Regions from separate parts of the Homo sapiens genome. Here all the other regions are linked to region 2. The links come from fine-mapping of genetic effects on gene expression. A gene starts in region 2. Each other region holds a variant in brackets. All regions are shown on one strand. Distances are from middle to middle. Region 1 overlaps RIPOR3 (RIPOR family member 3). Region 2 holds the start of RIPOR3 (RIPOR family member 3). Region 3 has its middle 2.6 kb from the start of PTPN1.

Region 1 (2,760 bases), 70 kb after region 2:
ACTGATGCTGAGCCAGGCACGGTGGCTCACACCTGTAATCCTAGTACTTTGGGAGGCTGAGGCAGGTGGATCATTTGAGGTCAGGAGTTCGAGACCAGCCTGGACAACATGGTGAAACCCTGTCTCTACTAAAAATACAAAAATTATCCAGGTATGGTGGTGCATGCCTGTAATCTCAGCTACTTGGGAGGCTGAGGCAGGAGAATCGCTTGAACCCAGGAGGTGGAGGTTGCAGTGAGCCGAGATTGCACCATTGCACTCCAGGCTGGGTGACAGTGAGACTCCATCTCAAAAAAAAAAAAAAAAAGAGAACTGATGCCAAAGTTAGATCTAAGAGTCATTTCCACCATGTCTCTTTTGTGAGAATGTTGTCATTAAGTGATGCCTGGTGCCAGGGCGCCTGGCTGATGGCTTTAGAGGGCTAAGAGCAGAATTCAACACATCTGTTGGTGAGCAAAGGCTGCATCAGCCAGCCTCATGGATAAGTTATGGGATCCTGAGAAGAGGCTTAGATGCCAGGGAAACCAGCTCTGTGCTGTGATGAGGGTGCCCTGGCCTCGTACTCCTATAATCAGTCTTGAGATGCTGCTACATCTCTAAATGTTGAGGGACCCAGCCATCACCACTGAAAGGCAGTTTTTAGGATCATCCAGTCCACACTCCCAACTCCAGCTGGCTTAAGCTAAAAAAGAGAGCCAGTTGGCTCATGTAACTGCAAAGTCCACGGGCAGGTTCAGCTTTAGACATAGCTAGATCCAGGAACTCACTGTCATGGAGATTTGGTCTGACTCTGTTTGTTCCTCTCTGTGTTGGCCCCAGTTTCCCTACATGGTGGCAAAAGGAGGAGGCTGGAAGTCCCAGGTATATGTTCCCCAGGTTAGCAATGCCAGGGGAAAAAACACTTCTCCCTTCTGTGAATTCTGAACTCCTGGCTGGCTACTGGCCAGGCTTGATCCCCATACTTCTTGGCCCAGGGGAGCAGAATATGTTGACTAACGCAGGCCTGGAATGTGGATTTGCCAAACAATCCCGTGTGCATGTGTGCATGTGCAAATGTGTGTGTGCATGTTGATTAGTCAGGCTACCTTTCCCCCAAACCACAAGTATAAAAAGCAGAGCTGGGGAGGTGCCCCAGAGGAAAATTGAGGTGCTACTACTAGAGGGAGGGGATGGATGCTGGGCAGGTAAAGCCAACAGATGCTGCCCCAAGGGTAAAGCACAGGACT[A/C]TGACTTGGCCTCCCACACGGCATTGCCTGCACAGGCAGAGCATGGTGATCAGAGAGCATTGGCATTTGGGCTACTTGACTGTATTTCTTCCTGTAAGTTCATTTCTGATACCAGATTTTTATTACTGTTCTTTTTTTTTTTTTTGTCAAGCTGTTCTATATTTCCGGGAGAGGGCAGGGGAGGGGGCTCAGTCTTTCCTGGCAGTGGCTTTCCTCATGGCGGCCAGGACATTGGCTCGGCTCCTCCTGCTTCCTCTTGGCGTGGATGTGTGTCCCCACCCTTTCCTTGATGAACTTGAGGGCCTGTTTGTCCTTGGAGACCTTCAGTAACTCCATAGCATGCTGCTTGTACAGGGCAAAGCCACACACCTCCCGGATCATGTCCCGCACAAACTCAGTGTATTTGGTCAGACACCCACTGCAGCGGCTGTGCCTGGGCTTGCTCACGTTCTTGGTCACCTTGTGGCCCTTGTTGAGGCCCATGGCCATAGGGTAGCGCAGAGCCATGGCTGCTGCTCTCCAGTGGCAGCCATGGTGGAAAAGCTTTATTACTCTTCTTTTAATCCTCAAATCTAGGCTCCTTATTTTTATTTATTTATTTATTTATTTATTTATTTATTTATTTATTTATTTATTTTTAAGACTGAGTCTCACTCTGTCACCCAGGTTGGAGTGCAGTGATGCAATCTCGGCTCACTGAAACCTCCACCTCCCGGGTTCAAGCGATTCTTGTGCCTCAGCCTCCGGAGTAAGTGGGATTACAGGCACGTACCACCACATCCGGCTAATTTTTGTATTTTTAGTAGAGACAGGGTTTCGCCATGTTGGCCAGACTGGTCTTGAACCCCTGATCTCAGGTGATCCACCCACCTCAGCTTCCCGAAGTGCTGGGATTACAAGTGTGAGCCACCGCACCTGGCCCAGGATCCTAATTTTACAGATGAGAAAGCAGAGACCCAGAGAGGCTCCATAACTTTCTGGAAACCACACTGCTTGGTGGTGATGGGGGTGGGACTGAGCCGGGTCTCCTGACTCCCTGTGGCTCTGGTCACTATTTCCAAAGTGCCTGCCCCTGGGGAGGGCTTTGTCAGGGCCCTTCTCTGACTTCTCTTGCCCTCCAACCCTTCTCACAGAAAGTCCATCAACAGGAACTCCGTGAGATCGCGAATGCCTGCAAAATCCTCCAAGATGTACGGCACGCTGCGGAAGGGGTCGGTCTGTGCAGACCCGAAGCCCCAGCAGGTGAAGAAGATCTTCGAAGCATTGAAAAGAGGCCTCAAGTAAGGCTGGGCTGTGTGCTGCCTTTAAGAAGTGCATTCCTCTACCTCGCCTCCTCTCTGTCTCTTCCTGGGGAAGCGTGGATGGGTCTTGTCTACAAGAGGTGACAGGTTAAGTTCCTGGTCATTCGTTTAGTAAGCAAGTATGTCAGGGTGCAGCCGCGTGCTCAGCCCGGTCCTTGGGCACTGGAAACCTGGCAGTGACTAAGGCAGGAGGACTCTGATCTTGTGGAGCACGCACTGCAGAGGGGCAGATT
Region 2 (2,760 bases):
CTATGATAAGCAGCTCTCAGCAAGCATCTCTGTGCCTGTCTCCTGTGCACAGGCATAAGTAGTAGGAGACCCTCATCTCTGGTTTTCAGAGGTCTTTGCCAAATTACCCTTCAGAGTCTGTGTGTGTGCTTTAATGGGGAGGGGTGTCCGTTCCTGTTCTTTGGTGCTGTTTATTTCTGGTTTCTTTTCCACACTAGCTGCAGAGTGGAAAGGAGCCAAGGCGAGGGAGAGAAATCTGTCTCTAGGTGTTCCAAGGCCCTGGATGTGCCACAGGGCTGGCCTCCCCTCCGGAGGCGGTAAATGGCTGCTTTGTTCTTGGGTCCGTCCCTGAGCAGAATCAGGACGCAGAGATGTGTCAAGTGGACAAAAGAAATTGTGCACATCACCAAGCCTGGATCCCACCCCTTGACCTGGAGAAACTGTTAACTTTGTAGGAGTCGCACACACACCAGTGTGACTGGGCAAGGGGCGAGCGCCCACCCCGAACCCTGAAATAATTAAGTTATACAAAAGAAAAAAAAACATAACAAAAGAGCCTGACCCTCACTAATGGATGTAAAGGAAAGAACCAAGCTGACTCTCAATCTAGGAGAAGTGGGAGGCGCAAAGGGGGAAAGGGGCTTGGGGGAAACCCAGGACGGAAGGAAGGGGTGTGCAATGGATCAGATCTGGACTGAAGAGGCGGACAGATGGGAAAGGGGAAAGAAAGGAGGGAAAGGAGAAAGAGTGAGGAAGGGGCTGGAGGAAAGTGACAAGGTAAGAAGAGGAAGGAGAGGGCTGGAGGAGGGAGGGGGTGGCCAAGAGCAGTTTAGGAGGGGTAGGCTGCGTCCCAGTCTGTTTGTGATTAGCACGCAGCCTGGTGCAGAATGGAGTAAACAGAAACTTCCAGGCGTCCCCTCCGCCCCTCTCTGAGGCAAAGCAGAAATCAGATGCTCTGTGATTAATCGTGGAGGATTCAGGACACGACCACAAACGCTGTGCGGACTTGAAATTAGCTGCCTTTTCCCAGTCCCCTTGCCAAAATGGGAGTGGGGGGTGGGACGTGAAGGGGTGGGGGCCCCGCCTGCTGGGGGCCAGCATGGAATTCCCCCCGGCAGAGCTGGGAGTGACACTGACAAGCAATCGGCCGCGTCCAGAGCAGCAGGCGGCATCCGGGGGGAGCGGGGCCGGCTGGGGGGCCCCAGGAGGGCTTCCTGGAACCCCAGCTCCATGGCCGCCTGCACCCTGACACAGGCCAGATAAGAGTCCCGGCTGCATTATCAGAGCCCGGCAGGGCACCGGCCTCCCTGCACCAGAAGGAAGACTCGGGGCGCAGCAGGTCCTCAAGGCGATCTTCCCAGAGAGCGGGACCAGCGGCTGGTGGCCAGTGTGGATGGAATTTGCAGAGCCCTAGCTCGAGTCCGGGAGTCCCGGGCCAGATGGGAGCAGACGCTTGCTGGCGGCAATAGGGAAAGTGAGGCAGCTGCAAGGAGGGCGGCGGGACTGCACTCGAGTGTCCAGACCTGCTCGATGGTGAGTGTGAAGTGACTGCTCCCCATGTGTGCCGTGACGCCGCCTTGTGTGGACAGACTTCTGGAGCTGGGGGTGACAGGAGGAGGCAGCCGTTCCTCACAGGCCACCTGGAGCTCCCAAGGCCGGAGGAGGGAACCTGGGTTGAGGCTGAGATGGGATGGCGGTATCGTGCTGTGTGGCCTTAGGCAAGTTATTTGCCCTCTGCAGGCCTCCATTTGTCCGTTTCTAAAACAGTGGTTGAACTAGGTGATCTTTAAGAGATTCTCATGATGACAGCTATTCCTTGTGTATCTGCTATACGCCAGGCACTGTGTAGGCATTTTTGAAGCGTCGGCTCGGGAAATCCCGGTAAGCCCCCTGCAGGGTAAGTATTATTGGTGTCCTCATTGTACCCTGAGGAAACAGCAGCTGGGCGAAGTGAAGTGACTTGCTGAGGTCACACAGCCGGTCAGTGGCAGAAACGAAAAAAGACCTAGGTTTTTCTGACTTGCTTTGGCTAAACTCTCCTGTACACCCCCAGTATTCTGTATTCTGTGCTCCATGGTTCTGCAATTATCCCAAGCAGCAGGGGTGAAGGAGAAGGAGGTATGGATGGAGCATTACCTGCAGGAAGGAGGCAGAGGTGGGACAGAAGGAGTGACAGGCTGACACTGGCAAGCAGCCTTTTACTCTCTAAAGGATGTGTCAGCCCAGGGTGGAGGCTGGCTGCCCTGGGATGGGGCAGGGGCTCCAGGCTTGAACGAAGAGTGCCCAGTGCAATTTCCTAGATTTGCTGCCTTGTCGTAGGAGGCTCCTGGGGGCATGAGAGAAGAGGGTTAATATGTCAGAGGTGGAGAGAGCTGGGGGCAGGGAGACTGGCATATGCCTCAACTAGGTTTTGTTCCAATTTTATTTTGCCTTTGCAGAAAATCTGTTTCGAATCACTCTGGGCCCGTGCAGTGTTTTTGGATGAAACAGAATTGTGAAACGCATACAGCGCTTTCCACATGCCTCCCCTGGGGGGAATCACATATTAATATTATCGTAAGCTATTTGCATATATATCCCTGCAGCTGTGGCTGGCAGCAGCCAAGAGATAAGAGACAGATAAAGTCAGCTCGTGTCTCCCTGGCACGGAAAGGGAGGGTGCAGGTTACACTCAAGGGCCAGGAAACACACAGCAGGTGGGGAATCCCTGGGGTTCCAGGCATCGGGCCAGAGTGAAAGGTCCCAGCACCCAGATGTGGCCTTTTCTTTTTTCTTCCCTTG
Region 3 (2,760 bases), 180 kb after region 2:
ACAAAAAAAGTTCTGGCATTAGGGTCTCAACAGACTAGACTAAAAATCAAAATGGAGTCACTCATGCTAAAGTTCTACATCATCAGACTGATAACCTTTCACAAAATCAGAAGAGAGATACACACCCTGATTTCCCAAGCAGACCGTTTTAATCAACATAATGAAGTTCCCTTTGCTTTAATCCTTACAACAAAAAGTAACCTGAAGTAACCCGATGCGACCAATCAGTTATTTCTCTCTTGTTCTGTTTCCCTGTTCCTGCCTTACAAGGAAAGTAACTTTGAAATGACCAATCTGCTTTTTGTTCTTTGTTTCTGCTTTTTTCAGCCCTTTTCTGTCTATAAAACCAACCTCCTCTGCTCAGCTCATTGGGACACTTGTGCTATTTTGAGGAATGAAGTCTTGCCCGATTCTAGAATCATGAATGAAGCCAATTAAGATGTTTAAGTTTGTTGTAATTTTGTCTTTTGACATTTACGGTCACCTGGGAAGTGTGTTGAATAATGCAGGTTCCTGGACCCATCGCCAAATGATTCAGATATCTTTGGTCTAGGGATGAGACCCGGAATCTGCATTTTCACCAACAACTCCAGCTGATTCTCGTACCTATGATCCTTAAAGCACCCATGAGCAGGTTGGTCAGGTTGCCTTCCTGCAGGCTCCAGTTTAAACCATCCCCCTCTGGGCCTGGCATGTCATGTGGACGTTGTGAATTCCAGGAGGTTTGAAAACCTGGAAGAGAGAATTGTCTTCATTCCGTGTTGCCCAGAGACACTGCCTGGTATTATCAGCTGAACTCCAGCTCATTCCTTGAGTGCTTGTGGCAGGCACTATGCCTGGAATTCTAAGTACACATTCCCATTCAATCTCCACAACAACCCTTCAATACAGGTGCTATTATTCCCATTTTATAAACGAGAAAACTGACTGGCTGTGGTGGCTCACGCCTGTAATCCCACCACTTTGGGAGGCCGTGGTGGGTGCATCACTTGAGGTCAGGAATTCGAGACCAGCCTGACAAGCATGGTGAAACCTCAACTCTACTAAAAATACAAAAATTAGCAGGGTGTGGTGGTGCATGCCTGTAATCCCAGCTACTCGG[C/G]AGGCTGAGGCACAAGAATCACTTCAACCTGGGAGGCAGAGGCTGCAGTGAGCTGAGATTGCACCACTGCACTCCAGCCTGGGCAACAGAGCAAGATCCTGTCTCAAAAAAAAAAAAAAAAATTAGCCGGCTGTGGTGGCGTGCACCTGTAGTCCCAGGTACTCAGGAGGCTGAGATGGGAGAATCACTTGAGCCTGGGAGATTGAGGCTGCAGTGAGCCATGATCATGTCACTGCACTCCAGCCTGGACGATAGAGTGAGACACTGTCTCAAAAAAAATAAATAAATAAAAATAGGCCAGGCCTGGTGGCTCACACCTGTAATCCTAGCACTTTGGGAGGCTGAGGCAGGTGGATCACCTAAGGTCAGGAGTTCAAGACCAGCCTGGCCAACATGGTGAAAGCCTGTCTCTACTAAAAACACAGAAAATAGATGGGTGTGGTGGTGCACACCTGTAATCCCAGCTAATTGGGAGGCTGAGGAAGGAGAATGGCTTGAACCTGGGAAGTGGAGGTTGCAGTGAGCCGAGATTGAACCACTGCACTCCAGCCTGTGCGACGGGAGAAAGATGCCATCTCAAAAAATAAATAAATAAATACAATAAATTAAATTAAAATAAAAATAAAAAATTAGATGAGGGGGGGACCGGGTGCGGTGACTCATGCCTGTAATCGCAGCACTTTGGGAGGCTAAGGCGGGTGATCGCCTGAGGTCAGGAGTTCGACACCAGCCTGATCAATATGGTGAAACCCCATCTCTACTAAAAATACAAAAAAATTAGCCAGCCATGGTGGCGTGTGATTGTAGACCCAGCTACTCGGGAGGCTGAGACAGGAGAATTGCTTGAACCTGGGAGGCAGAGGTTGCAGTGAGCCAAGATCACACCACTGCACTCGGGCCTGGGTGACAGAGCAAGACTCTGTCTTAAAAAAAAAAAATGGATGAGGAAACTGAAGCACAGAGAGACAAAATTACTTGTCCAGAGTAGCATTGCACATTGGTATGGAAACCTGCATTCTAGCCTGGTTTCCAGAGCCTGCTTTGGAGCCAGGCTTCGTGGGTCCAGGTTCCAGCTGAATAAATACTAGTGGTGCAAACTTGGGCAAATTTTCATTAGTCTCTGCTCTCCTTTGTAAAACAGAGATAATAAAAGTGCCCACCTCATAGGGCTGATGTGAAGGTTGGATGAGTACATATCATGCTCTTAGTATACTGAGTGGCTCAATAAATATTAACTGTCATTACTACATATCTTTAAATAATAGCAAATAAAGGAGATAAATGAAATGTTATTGAATACATGCAATTAGCTTGATCAGCAGTGTCTTTAGAAAGTGAGCATTCCATAGGGGAAAAATTAACAAAAATGCCCATTCCAGTGAAAACTGTGGGAGCTGCCACACTTGGAAGCTACCTAATTGAAGTCTTAGTTCCTTTAAGTGACTGTCCAGACTCCTGTGCTCCTCCCGCCCTTAAACCCTTATACTTTTTGGGTTCTGGTTTGTCTGGAACTCACAATCCTGAGAGCATCCTGGAACAAAAACAGGGCTGGTTCATTCCTGTCCCTGTATGTCAAGCTAAGTAAGTAAATAAATGCCCATCCCAAGCCCAAGTGGCCCTCACGCCTGCAGGGGGTGCTGCCCAGTGACTGGAGTAGC

What was found.
Region 1: its variant is fine-mapped to the expression of RIPOR3 in lung (TOPMed, PIP above 0.99).
Region 3: its variant is fine-mapped to the expression of RIPOR3 in monocytes after Pam3CSK4 (Quach 2016, PIP 0.95). The same link has a PIP of 0.9 or more in monocytes after LPS.

The regions. Positions count from the first base shown.
Region 1 is chr20:50,619,732-50,622,491 of GRCh38, reverse strand. RIPOR3 (RIPOR family member 3) reads left to right here. Exons shown (of 22, transcript NM_001290268.2): 3 at 2,360-2,506. It also overlaps the pseudogene RPL36P2. Among named protein-coding and RNA genes, the nearest start is that of MIR1302-5, 6.3 kb to the right of the region's middle. The variant A/C (reference allele first, on the strand shown) is at 1,227.
Region 2 is chr20:50,689,878-50,692,637 of GRCh38, reverse strand. RIPOR3 (RIPOR family member 3) reads left to right here and starts at 1,096. Exons shown (of 22, transcript NM_001290268.2): 1 at 1,096-1,512. The coding sequence starts at 1,510. RefSeq lists an enhancer at 13-2,760.
Region 3 is chr20:50,506,367-50,509,126 of GRCh38, reverse strand. No RefSeq gene overlaps it. Among named protein-coding and RNA genes, the nearest start is that of PTPN1, 2.6 kb to the left of the region's middle. The variant C/G (reference allele first, on the strand shown) is at 1,103.